2 linked regions of the Homo sapiens genome follow. The protein of the gene in region 1 interacts with the protein of each later gene in a pairwise test. Each region holds a gene or a part of one and is shown on either strand. Other genes may lie near its edges.

The links.
Region 2: the proteins of OSTC (region 1) and EDA interact in binary tests that used the Homo sapiens proteins (3 or more experiments, as listed by UniProt).

Annotation. Positions count from the first base shown.
Region 1 is NC_000004.12:108,646,298-108,653,604, reverse strand, and holds the start of OSTC (oligosaccharyltransferase complex subunit OSTC), read right to left. Parts: upstream 3,007-7,307; 5' UTR 2,950-3,006; coding exon 2,811-2,949; intron 1-2,810. UniProt on the Homo sapiens protein: Subunit of STT3A-containing oligosaccharyl transferase (OST-A) complex that catalyzes the initial transfer of a defined glycan (Glc(3)Man(9)GlcNAc(2) in eukaryotes) from the lipid carrier dolichol-pyrophosphate to an asparagine residue within an Asn-X-Ser/Thr consensus motif in nascent polypeptide chains, the first step in protein N-glycosylation.
Region 2 is NC_000023.11:69,955,087-69,962,113, forward strand, and holds part of EDA (ectodysplasin-A), read left to right. Parts: intron 1-1,940; coding exon 1,941-2,046; intron 2,047-7,027. UniProt on the Homo sapiens protein: Cytokine which is involved in epithelial-mesenchymal signaling during morphogenesis of ectodermal organs. Functions as a ligand activating the DEATH-domain containing receptors EDAR and EDA2R. May also play a role in cell adhesion.

The DNA.
Region 1 (7,307 bases):
TCAAACCAGAAACCTGTAAGATTCCTTCCCACTTCATTCTTCCCCTACACCCAGTGAATTCAAGACCTACTGAATCTACTTCCAACATATCTTTCATTATATTATCCTAATCTCCACTACCATAAACCTTGTATAGTCTAAGTCAACTACAAAGGCCACCTAATTGGTCTTTTGGTCTCACATTTGCCCTACGTTTCCCTCTGCCTAGCATATCCTTTCCCCGAACTCTTCAGATTTTGGCTTACATATCATTTCCTCAGGAATCATATCGAATCCAATCCAGATGATGCTTCCAACTCCCTTTAGTTTCTCAAAAACCTCTTGTTCTTTTCTTTCACTGTATTTATAACCATTGTTTGTTTGTTTTTATTTTTTGAGAGAGGGTCGGGTCTTGCTCTGTCACCCTGGCTGGAGTGCAGTGGTGCCATCACAGCTTACTGCAGCCTCAGCTTCCCAGGCTCAGGCGATCCTCCCACTTCAAACTCCTGCACCATAGTCCCAGCTACTTGGGACTACAGGCGTGCGCCACCAGGCTCAGCTAATTTTGGGGTTTGTTTTTTGTTTCTGAAACAGGGCCTTGCTCTGTTGCCCAGGCTGGAGTGCAGTGGCACCATCTCGGCTCACTGCAACCTTCACCTCCCGGGTACAAGCAATTCTCCTGCCTCAGCCTCACAAGTAGCTGGGACTACAGGCGTGTACCACCACGCCTGGTTAATTTTTTGTATTTTCAGTAGAGACAGGGTTTCGCCATGTTGCCCAGGCTGGCCTCGAACTCCTGGGCTCAAATGATCCAACTGGCTCAGGCTCCCAAAGTGTTGGATTACAGGCGTGAGCCACTGCGCCTGGCCTGTTTTTGTGAACATTTTTAACGGACAAAAAAATTAAGTGACATTTAATATGTCTCATCTATGACATTATAAGCTTCAGGAGGTCAGGGTCCTTATGTTTTGTTCTATTATCTCCAGTACCTAGTGCCTGAAACTTAACGGGACTCAGTATCTATTTGCTGACTATTTGTCAGCAACAAATAGTTTATTTATAAAGGTGCACTCAGTTTTTAGAAGAGACTTCTTCCCTTCCAGTGGCAAAACCAATTCATCATACAAGATACCTCATAGACCTGGCCACTAAAAAGCAACCTTTCCACTTTCCCCCAATGGTTGGGACAAAGAATCTCCCCATTACAATAATCAACAGGAGAAAAAAGAGGGCCACAAAGAAAACTGAGGCTTCTCGCAAAGAATCCGACTCCAAGGGAAGTAAGGGTTACAGGAAAGAAACTAGCATTATTCATTATTATTATTGAATAATGACTTTTTTTTTGTCCAACGACCTTCGTGAACTGTGCAAAAATATGGAACGCTTCACGAATTTGCGAGTCATTCTTGCACAGGGGCCATGGTAATCTTCTCCCTATCATTCCAATTTTAGTATATGTGCTGCCGAAGCGAGCACTCAATAATAATACTGAATTATTCTATATTATTTATTTTTAAAAGTCTATTATTTTTAAAAGCCACATGCATTTTAAATTTTGTTTATTCAGTACAGTAGCTATTAACTTGATGAGCAAATGTTAATGGTTAATGCTAATGCAATGCTAGATAGTATCTTGTTACCAAATAAGTATTTAAATGTAACTCAAATATTTAAATGTAATTTATTTAAATGAACGTAAGTTAATTCTCACTATTCTAGATTGGGGGAAGGAGGTAAATTCAAAGGTGCTTTCTAGAACTCAGCTCTCTCAGTTTGAATCCTCCCCCTTCAGTGCCAACTATTCTCACAAAACATCTATGAAAATAACAATTATATGGCCACTCCCTTAAAAGTAGAACTACTTTTGCTATCCCAAATCCGTAGCTTTAATTTTATAATTTCCAGGTTAAGTACACCACTTCCCAAAATCTAAATTAATTTTATAATTTCCAAGTTAAGTACACCACTTCCCCAAATCTAAATGTACACAGTAGCACAGTTCTAAGTAAATCTTGGAACTGTGGCCTGAAAGGGTAGTGGCTCTGAAAAGACTAGCCGGATTGCCAACTCACCAGTACATAAGGCAACGCCCCTTTGCAATTTTCTATTTGAAAAGGACAGAATAAGATGATAGACAATTCAGAAGCGTTTAATAGTAATGCTATTTATCTTATTTTTTTAATTCTCAACTTCTGCCCACTGAAATACAGTATCGTCTGCAAATCTCATCTCCAATCTCAAATATTTATCAAACCTGTGATTTCAGAAAATTCCATTGATATTTATTGTAGGTCATGCAAAAGGCAACACAGAACCCTAGGTTTGAGCCAACAAAACTAAAGATTGTCAAGTCTCTTCCAAGATTCCAGGACAAAGATAAGTTTAAAAGTCCCACAAGCTCTTGACCAACCATGGAAGCGGAGTTGGCCAAATTAGACCTTCCCAGGACCTTTATCAAACAACCAACCATGGAAACGGAGTTTGCCAAATTAGGCTTTCCCAGGACATTTATCAAACAACGTATGGCAAGCAACAAAAAGAGCAACAATTTGGCCTTGAAAAATATATTTGACTCGGATCCCTGGGATGGGAGGGCTAGAAGGAGAAGAAAGGCAATGGGAGTGAGAACACGAATTCTCTTAAGACAGGGCGTGAAGGCGAATAAACTTGGACGTTAACACTTCGGACCCCAGAACTCCCCTCCACCCTCAGAAAAGATCCAAAGCAGAGCTATGCTTCCCCCGGGGCTGAGAGTCAGCGGAACAGACGCGCCTCCCGGGGCGGGTCAGTTCTCCGCTCCTCAGCCTCTCGGGCCCGACAGCCCGAGTTACCTCCGGTGATGAGGAAGTAAGACACCACCACCAGAGCATACACAGTCATGGCCGACGGCATGTGCAACCAGGGCGGCTTCTTCAGCTTCAGGTTGGGACATTCGAGCACTAAGAACGGGACACGGTACAAAGTCTCCATGTTGGTGGCAGCAAGGGCCGTTCTCGGCCTCAAGCCCCACGCGCCTCCCGGAAACAGGCCCGCCCTCCCTAACAAGTGCGCGTGCGCGAGGAAAGGACCCGCAGATCCGTAAAGCTCGGAGGTGGTTACTATACTCATAGAAGAAAATAAGAAACTAAATAAAACAAATAAATGATATGAATAAAGTGTTGTAAATTATTTAATCTAATTAAACTTACATTGTGATAATGTACTCTACATTTTTCTAATGGATATATAGGTGATTTGTGTACCTTCAAGGACCTGCGGGACTTCTAACGTGGCCAAGCCGGAGAAGCGGAGGCCAAGGAATCTAGGTGAGCCCCGCCCACTCGCTGACGCAGGGGATTTGAAAGCTGATTGGACAGGGGGCGCTCCCGGTTCCCAGAGCGGGAGATGAATGGGAACTTTTGGATATAAATGCCTTTTATATTAGAGGTTTTTTCAAGGGTTAGGAAAAGCCGGAGGCTGCTGAGCTTTTACTTCCCGATGTAGTCGTGGTAATAATAAGAATTAATAATAGTTGCTAAAGTAATATGTTACCAATTTTTTTTAAACATCCAGCCTGGATCACAAATGTCAACAGGACATCTCTACAGGGATGCCTTAATGCTGATAGCTTGGCGTGACCATAATACTATTTTGAATAACTCATCCTCTCAACTTTGCTCTTCCCTTGGTCATCTGTATGTCGCTAAAAGGTAAAATCCCTCTGGCCAAAAATCTTAAAGTCGTCTGGATTTCTCTCCTTACTAACCTTCTGCATCCAAAATATTAGTAGGTCTCTTTGGCTGTACTACCAAAATATCTCCAATTCATCTGCCCCTCACCATTCCACCACTGACACCCTAGTGTGAACCACCGCCATCTCTGGTCTGGGCAACATTTACAATCCAAATAGATGAAAATATATGATGGAGAATTAGTCATTAGGGATGGACTAGAAGGTCTAAAAGATTTTTTGTTTTCTGTTTTGCTTTTCTTTTTTATATAATCTTTTAAGACTCTACAAATGTTAACTTCCTTTTGGAGCAAGAGTTAAGAGTCACTGATTACATAAGTCCAGAGCATATTGACACATTATAGAGCCAATGTTTTTATATTTTTTTATTTGCTTGTTACTAAGCCCGTGGTTATTTTTACAGGATGCCATGTATTGGTTCTGCACTTCTAATTAGCTAACAACTCAATTGTTAAGAAATTGCTTGAAGACGGTAATGAAAATACTATCAAAACATTGTAGTATCCAATTCTAAGTACAGTTGAGGCTTGCTGCCCTTACTGTTCATTAGTGAGAGTCTCTCCCAGAGTCATATTGCCTATGTCTTAACGGAGCCACACGAATCTTAGGTTATGTAAAGGCCAATGATAACACCAATAATGAATGCATTTACACCAAAACCAGCGTTTATATGTAGGAAGTTTCTCTGGGCACTGTAAAGCAGAATGTTTCTGAAATTCCCACAGTTTTATAAGTAAGGAACACTTTGGAACAATTAAAATATTTTGCTTTGGTATGAAGAAAAAAATAAAAATAAAACATTTTGCTTTGGAAAAACATAGGGATTAAAGGTTTTTAAATTTCCTTTATAGCTTAAAAAGGAATCTAACATTAATTAACCACTGCTTGGCAGGTACTATGTTAAGTGATTTACATTTGTGCTTATATACTCTTCATGACAATTCTGTTAGGTAAATACTAGTATAACTGCTTTACATATGACAAAAGTGGCTCCTGGGAAGGGAAATAAACTCAAAAAGTGTAGTATAGTCTGTGACTGGATGAGACCTAAAAGGCAATTGCTGTAGAAGTAAATAGATTTAAGACGTTTAAAATGGTATACGTTTATATACTTATCCTTCTTCCTGTGTATACTAGGGACACATAATTTCTACCTACATTGTGGAAAACATATAAATTATTAATATATAATTTTTAAATGAAAAATTAATTTCATAAATAATAAAACTGCCAAGTCAGAACACACTGCATTCATCTATATGTTAAATTATTACTATCACTTTCCAAAAAGTAAGTTTGCTCCAGGAACCAATTCATTATTATTTTTTAACCTCTTAAGCTTTGAAATATTTTTCAACATGAGTTTGTAATATTCTATAAGCCACGTATAAAAGAGACCTTTCATGAGTAAGATATGCATATCTGTTATCATCCATGTCCTAACCCACAATTCCTACAGAAAAATGTTCTATTTAAACATAACATAAACTCTGTAACTGAAAACCAAAGAAATAATGAATATAGCAGTGGGCATTAGAGCATGCCCTTAAATAAACATATAATCAATCATTCAGTGGTTTTCTATTTATAGATGAAGAAGGAAAAATGTTGAGAGAAACACAGTTTACAATATAATATGCAGTAGAGCTGTCATCTTAAGCTACATATAAAAGCAAATGTTAATAATTCTTACTGTGCACAAGCAAATATATATTCAAAGAAGAAAAAAGTGTAAAGATGGTATCTACCAAGCTTTCTGTGTTCATTGTAGAATATTTTAATAAAAAGCCTTGAAGTCAGAAATGGTTCTGCCAGCCAAAAGAGAGGGAGAGCTCCACAAATAAGTTTTTAACTAAATTCTAAACAAACTAGAATTACAAAGGCTACAAATATTGTTGATTTCTGTTTATTTAAATATGTGTTGGAGAGGAAATTAGTAGCTTTGTTTTTTGTAGGATAATAATACTAATATTAACCTGGATTTTTATTTATGAAGACATTTTGCAGTTTGGTTGACAGTGTCTTGAATTATGTTCTTTCGCGCTAGGTTCTGTATAAGCATGAGTACGAAGCACTATTATGTCTCATGATCTAAATAAAAACTCTTTCTAATGCAATATTGTGGGGTTTGGTGTTATTGTTGTAGTTATTTTACATTTTGAAGGTTGTTTTTAAAATTATATGCAAGTAATGGCTGGGCACGGTGGCTCATGCCTGTAATCCCAGCACTTTGGGAGGCCTCCTCACCTGAGGTCAGCAGTTCGAACCCAGCCTGACTAACATGATGAAACCCCATCTTTACTAAAAAATACAAAATTAGCTGGGCATGGTGGTGTATGCCTCTAATCCCAGCTACTTGCAAGGCTGAGGCAGGAGAATGGCTTGAACCCGAGTGGCGGACGTTGCAGTGAGCCGAGATCGTGCCATTGCACTCCAGCCTGGGCAACAAGAGAGAAACTCCATCTCTAAAAATAAATGAATAAACAAATAAATAATGAAAATAAGAAATAAAATTATGCAAGTAAAACATAGGAACCTGCCCAATGTAAAATAATTAATTTATTCAAATATTAGAGACACATATGGAACGAGTTTCCCATTATCACTATTCTAATTTTAGTTCTCCTTCCAGAGGTAGTGAGATCACTGAGTTCTAGAATGTACAATTGGGATAAATGTACTCAGCAAATGGAAAAATCACCATATTGGTTTCCTGACCCATATTATGAGGGCTTTTATGGCAGGAAAGTCTAAGTGTAACCAGTAGAACTGCTTTTACCTACAGAAATAATAAATCTAAAGTGACTTCAGTGGCTGATGTGCTATCAAAGACTTGAAAGATGCTGAGTAGTGATTTCTGCCACATTTCGCTCAATTAACTTGGCCCTTGCAAAAGAAAGATGGACCTTGGAGAACAACAGTGGATTATTGTAAATTTAATCATGTGGTGACTCCAACTGCTGCTGCTATTCCACTTGTGGTTTTGTCGCTGGAGCACATCAACACATCTCGTGGCACCTGTTAGCTGTTCTGGCAAATGCTGTTTCTACTTATGCCTATGGTAAAGATCATCAGAAGAAGTTTGCTTTCAACTGGCAGAGTCAGCAACACACCTCCATTTCAGAATTATATCAATTCCCCAGCTCTATGTCATAATCTGATTTGCAGGAACTTTGATTGCCTTCTCATTCACAGAATATCACACTATGACATTGCATTGATAATATGCTCATTAGACAGTGATCTAAGTAGCAACTACAGTAGATATATTGTTAGGACAAATGCATGCCAGAGGATGGAAAAATAAGCACAATAAAATGTCAGGGTCTCCTCAGGGAAATGTCTAGGGGTTAAGTGATCTGTAATACATAGAAAGCTCTTTCAAAATAAAGGATATTTGCTGCACAATGCTCAATGGATGGACCACTTGCAACATATACTTCATTTGGTCATACCATTTTGATGTATTTGCTGAGCAATCCAATAAGCTGCTAGTTTTGATTGGGATCCTGAATAAGCAAAGGTTCTTCAATAGCAAACTGCTCTGCCACTTGGGCCATACAACTTAGTAGATCCAGTATTACTTGTAACGTCTGTG
Region 2 (7,027 bases), on another chromosome or scaffold:
GAGTTGCAAATGATTGAGATTTTATTGTAAACAGCAGTTTAGTTTTATACTATTATTAGTACTTAGCTTATTTATATTGTGAGTTAAGTAACTTTCTGTGGGCTTATCAGGAGAACTAGCCAAACTTTATTATGTTGATTGTATGAGAAAATGCATTTTTACATTCCAATCAAGTGACTCAAAAATACTACTCAGTTGAACCATGTGAAATTGTTGATTGATATTCAACCATTTTTGACAAAAATGGCAGTTTATTTTGAAATGCAGTCCTGTTGACAAGATGGAAATTACCTACACATTGATTTATTAATTTTATATTTAATACATTCATGTATCCTTCAAGATGCTAATCCTACACCTTAAGGATATTGGGTAAATCACAGAATTTTGAAGAAAATTTGTGTGGAATATTGGGGCTTTCTTGGGTCCAACCCATTTTTTTTCCACTTAATCAGAGATGGAGCAGACATGAGGACTCTGGAATTTTTTATTTTTTGAACTGATAATAGAATGAAAATGCAGATTCATTTGTTCTATTTTAGGCCCCAAATTAACCATTCTATTTTGAAGATTAAGTTTAATAATAATAGTAATAGCAAACATTTATTAAGTGCATGCTACATGCTAAGTACTGTTCTAACTCTGCAACTGTTTTATCTGCAAAGTACTATTATTATCCCTACTTACTGATGAGGAAACTAAAGTTTAAGTAACTTGTTCCAGGTTATACAGCTAGTAAGTGGCAGAGTTGGCATTAGAATCACTCAGTCCTACTACCGTGTTTACTGTTTACCTCAAGCACATGGTTTTACCACAGTAAAGCACTCATGCTAAAAGATTATGATTCAATTCAGCAAATATATATTTAAGCTATGATTATTAGTGAAGCCAGACCCATTCACATATGAAACATATTGTATTATTATCAGAGACCATTATAAGACAGTAGAGGACCAGGTACCAAAATTAGTCTTATAGACCACAAGTGCTATAGGAATCTCAGAAGAGGAGAAAATAATTGTGTACTTTGTCATGACTAACTCCCAGAAGAGCATTGACAAATAGTACCTCAGTATTGGATGCACAGCATTTTGGGAACAAACCAAAATTACATCATAAATAGCAATGTGGCAAAATCATGAATGTGTAATAATGAAGTCCAATGGGGAGCAGCAAATTCAAGGTTTTCTTTCTTTCTTTCTTTCTTTCTTTCTTTCTTTCTTTCTCTTTCTCTTTCTCTTTCTCTTTCTTTCTTCTTTTTTTTTTTTTTTTTTTACAGAGTTTTGCTCTTGTTGCCCAGGCTGGAGTGCAGTGGTGCGACCTCAGCTCACTGCAACCTCTGCCTCCCAGGTTCAGGCGATTCTCCTACCTCAGCCTCCCCAGTAGCTGGGATTATAGGCACCCCCCACCACCACACCCGGCTAATTTTGTATTTTTAGTAGAGATGGGGTTTCACCATGTTGGTCAGGCTGGTTTCGAACTCCTGACCTCAGGTGATCCGCCCACCTCGGCCTCCCAAAGTGCTGGGATTACAGGCGTGAGCCACTGCTCCCAGCCAAATTCAAGGTTTTCTGTTCAATTTTCTGTTCAACTCAAATTCTGAGTGAGCATCCTCAGTATGTGTGGGAAGTTAGAAATTTGTGGCTAGGCTCTCTGAATCCCAGAAATATATGAAGAAATGGGACCTGATGGATTATTTATTAGATATTCAGGGTGGAAGAAATGGGATTCAGAAATTAACCAAAATGTCATGCCTACATGATTGGAATAATAATGGTATCAAAAATAAAATGGTTTGTACAGTGGAGGGGAAGATGGGCTCAGGCTTTAGACACATCAAACTTAAGGTACAGGTAGACTGTCTATGGAAAGCTGGTTTTTTATGTTGGCTATGACTGAGTGGGGTCAACCTTTGACTAATGTACTTGTAATTTTTACAGATGGCCCTATTGAATTTCTTCTTCCCTGATGAAAAGCCATACTCTGAAGAAGAAAGTAGGCGTGTTCGCCGCAATAAAAGAAGCAAAAGCAATGAAGGAGCAGATGGTAAGTCTACTCAGTTGATCCTTTATCACTTCTGAATTATTTGTTAGTAAAAGTATCCTTTTAAGAACTACCTTCTTGGTAGGGCATGGTGGCTCACGCCTGTAATCCTAGCACTTTGGGAGGCCCACGCGGGCAGATCACTTGAGGTGAGGAATTCAAAACCAGCCTGGCCAACATGGTGAAACCCTGTCTCTACTAAAAATACAAAAAAAATTAGCCGGGCCTAGTCCCAGCTGCTTGGGAGACTAAGGCAGGAGAATCGCTTGAAACTGGGAGGTAGAGGTTGCAGTGAGCTGAGACTGTGCCACTGCACTCCAGCCTGGGTGACAGTGCGAGACTCCATCTCAAAAAAAAAAAAACAAAAAAAAAAAACCACTACCTTTTCAAGTGTGCTTCATCATCTTATATACTGTCCACCACAGACCCAAGGTCATAGACTATTTCTGCAGCCTAACCTACCAATCAGTCCTTTAACATAGAACTAACTATACAAGGATCCTCCCTCCTCCAACTCCAGATACCTTCAGTCCTTTCTCAGTATGTCTGAGAGCCATGATAGCATTTGTATCTCTCAAAATCACCCTCTATAAGGGCCTCATCTCTCCCGGAGATGTCCCACACCTATTAAGGTCAACAGGAGGATTTGGTTCTATTCTTGGAATTGACAGTGTTGTACCCTGCTAGCACTTACATGATGTGTTAATTCCAATGATAATTTTATCAATGTTGGTATCCACTACCATGCCCAAATCTGAACTAGACCTTCTAGAACTAGTTTATAAGTTTCTTGTGGGCAGAGATTTCATTTCTCTTTGTATAAGCCTAGAATCTAGCCTACTATCTGGAACATTGTTGGTGATTGTTATGTAAGTCGATGATGTTGACTGCCCCTTCAGCTAGGCAGTGATGTATCAATGGAAACCATCCCTGTTCTGGGTGTAATAGCTTTGAGTTAACTAGCAATGCATTCTGTGGGGCATAACAAAATGTTGAGCTAGCTCCTGGGCAGGGTCTTTGAATTGCTCTGATATTTCAGCATCACTCTGTCAATTGACATAATGCTACCCCTTTGGGCACAGGGGTTTGTAGAATACATAGCTCTGGGCTGCTGCAAAGGCATCTGGATTCAAAGACAGCATGTGTCTGGCTACATCTGCCAATAATATGTGTCTGGAGGGTTACAAAGCAATATGACTTTATACAGATGAAAATGAAAATTTTAAACTGACATTTGTTGATGTGAGTAAGGGCCACTGATGGAAGCAGTTTTAGAGGGCGGAAGCTATTAAAGAGATGGAGCCAGGACTTTGTCAGTAGGGGCAATAAGAAGTATAACTGGCTGAAATCTGAGAAAGAGCTCAGAACAAGGACCCCATAATAATACCAAAAAAAAAAAAAAAAAGAGCCAGAGCAGTAAGATAGGGTTTTCTAGTCAGTGGAGGTGGCAGCAGCATTGAGCCTTTGAATGGAGAACTGGACCAGTGGGGCCATTCTCTAGAGAAGTCATTTTGCATACAATTGATGACCAATTCAAGCCTAAGAAATGCAGTCCATGTAGTAAAAGTTACCCATTATTCACCTACTACTTGTAGCCAGTTTCCCAGAAGTCTTCTGGCTATGTGGAAGCAGGGAGCTAAGAAGCATGGACCCTTTCCTCTCCTAATCATCTCACCCTCTGATACATGTAAGTCTCTCCACCTTCAGCTTTTCCCCTGAGGCTACTCCCACAACCATCAAACTTTTCATAATCCCTGGTTGCAAAGGAAGAGAGGAGACAGGTGGTAAGAGCAATATCACCTTCTATAGTGGGCGTGGTCTTCCCTCCCTCTCTGAGTGGTAAGTCTAATGGCTTCTAAGGTTTACCTCTTCATCTAACCTCCGAAGTTTTCTCTTAAAGAAAATAATTTCCTCCTTTCCCTAAAACTACTTTATCCAAATTCAGCTACCAACGTCTCTGATACCGATCTTCCTTAGAATGTTTATTCTGTCCTAATACAAAACAGTTTTCTCTCTGGTCAAGGTCAAAGCCTCTCATTAATTTTTAGCACTTCTTATATACTTCCCTCCTGATCTGATACTCTAGTCAGTCACTAGACTCTAGTCTCTTGGTGCCAATGCCAAGTTTCTCATGCAGTCCAGGCATTTTTCTTTAATCAGTATAGCTTGGAGGAATCCAAGAGTCCCTTAGAGTTAGGAGTATAGAATGCCTGGGGGTCCTTGAATTTTATTAGATTTCCAACTTTTCACCTGGTGGTCTGTAGAACCATTTCTTTAGATGTGGCAGATGCTCCAATGAGTTAAAGAGTGGTAAGTCAATCCAAATCTCCTTTTCCTTTGAACCATTCTTGTTACTCTGATGAGCGTATACTATATTTATTCAATACACTCATCAAATATTTACTAAGTAAATACAGCAGTTTATATAGTACTTGAATAAACATTCAATAAGGATTTTTTTTAATATTCCCACTGCCTAGAAACAGACTTGGCACCTAGTAGACCCTCAATAAATATGTCCTGTTGCCCTCAAAGTGATTTACTTCCAGCATAAAGAGGCAGACAATAAATAAAGTTGGTTAAATTTGATAAGTGGTATGAAGAAAAATATAGCTGAGCAACAGGGAGAGAGAGTGATGGGGTATGCTGTAAGATGATCAAGGAAGGTACTCTGATAAGGGAACATTTGGGAAGAGACCTGAATGAAATGAAGTAAGAGCTATGCAAATGTCTGGGGAAAAAAGAAGCAGAAAATTCAAAGGCTCTGAAGCAGAAGAATGTTTGGTATGTTCCAGAAAGATCAGTGTGGCTGGGAGCAGAGTAAGAAGAGGAAGAGGGAAGGAGATGAGTTAAGAAAGCAAAATCCAATCTAGAGCCTTGTTGGCCAAGGTAAGGACTCTGGCTTTTATTCTGCATGAAATGGAGGACCACTGGAGGATTTTGAGCAGAGGAATGACAGGATCTGATGTATGTTTTAACAGCATTCCTCTGGCTGCTGTATTGAAAATAGGTGCAGGAAGAAAGGATACAAGCAGGAAGAATCTTTAGGAGAGTATTACAATAATCCAGGCAAGAGATGATGGTGGCTTAGACCAGGATGGAAGCAGTGTGGGTGGGGAGAAGTGGTCAGATTTTAGAGAGATTTTGAAGGAATGGCTGAAGGATTTTTCAGATTGATTAGATAAGGGATATGACAGACAGAGAAGAGGCATCAGTGACCCCAGGGTTTTGGACTTCAGGAACTAAACAGGTAGAATTGCCATTTCTGAGATGAGGAAGCAAAGGAGAGAAGCAGTGTAGAGGAATATGGGGAAAGAGTTTAGTTAGGCTTGTTAAATTTGAGGTAGCTATTAAACAGCCAAGTGGATATATAAGTCTACACTAAACATCACTGTGTATCATGAAAATAAGATGACTCTCTTTTGTACAAAGGACTTGTCATTGAAGAAGTGAGTCAGTCTGGAAACTGCTCTGAACAGAATAAGAGGTAGGATGGGATAGGTAAATCATAGTGGGGTGAGTTATGGCCAAAAAAAAAATCTTATCAGGTGTTGATTATAAATTCACAAATTACTTGATATGTTATAATAAAAATTTAACTATCTAAGCTCAGGTTTGCCTCACAAGTGTCAAAGAACAAGTCATTTACCTTGAAGAGTTAAGAACATGGCAGAAGTTCGTGACCAGCCTGGGCAACATGGTGAAACCCCGTCTCTACCAAAAATACAAAAAAAAAAAAAATAGCGGGGCACTGTGGCACACACCTGTAGTCCCAGCTACTCAGGAGGCTGAGGTAGGAGAATTGCTTGAGCCCAAGAGGCAGAGGTTGCAGTGAGCCAAGATCGTGCCACTGCACTTCAGCCTAGGCAACAGAGTGAAACTCCATCCAAAAAAAGAAAAAAAAAGAAAGAAAGAAAGAAAGAAAAAGAAAGTCTAGACCCTACTTCATTTGTTTGGTCATTCATCATTTAACAAATGTTTTTTACAGGTGCCCGCCACAACACCCAGCTAATTTTTGTATTTTTAGTAGAGACTGGGTTTCACTATGTTGGCCAGGCTGGTCTCGAACTGCTGACGTTGAGTGATCCGCCCACCTCAGCCTCCCAAAGTGCTGGGATTACAGGGGTAAGCCACTGCATCCAGCCTAGACTTTCTTTCTAGGAACTATAGATATTAAGCTTAATGATCTCCACAAATCCCTGTGAGAGAAAAAAATTTTTATAAACAGTTCATTAACTCTTGGAAACGGAAGGGATGTAGTGATCCTTAGGAGCTGCATAGGTTCACCAAGAACAAATCAGGCTGCAGAAGCCTATTTTCCTGTTTTCATCAGACTATTAAACTAGTTGATTAGAGGCATAGCATACACATAGTCTATCTTGCCTTTTAAAAAGAAAGTCAGTGGCAATATCCAGGGTATATACAATCTTTCTGACTCACCATTCAAGAATGACTAGGTTCATCTCAGTTTCTCCATTCAAATTACTTTATAAATGAAAGCATTGGCTAGCTAAGCAGGAGTCTCAAACACATGGTTAGTTTCAACTCTTAGAAAAGAAGTGAATTTCGTTTTCTTTACTACATTTCTTCCTTGAATTCACTGACTTGAGTTGGCCAGAAGTATTTCAGATCGTTTAAGTTTATTCGTACTAATTATGTGAGGCCTTTGGTTGTTGTTCTTCTTCAAAGAAAGTATGATACCTTCACTGTGGGTGTTGAGTCACAACAGTTCTAGAAATCTGTGCCAGGATTTCTTGCTGTGTCTTATCTTTGTGATGTGTTTCTGAAGTAATAATAGCTCCAGGTGGCTTGTTTGGTCATCTCTTGCACAGCACTCCAGAAATCCACAGAACTTTATTTTCTAGTTAGAATGAAATGTAGAATGTATTTGGGAGGTCATGAGGCCTTAGAATCAGGTAAAATGAATCCAGAATTCCCAAGGAGGTAGTTTCCATATTTCACAAATATTATTGTAAAAACATCT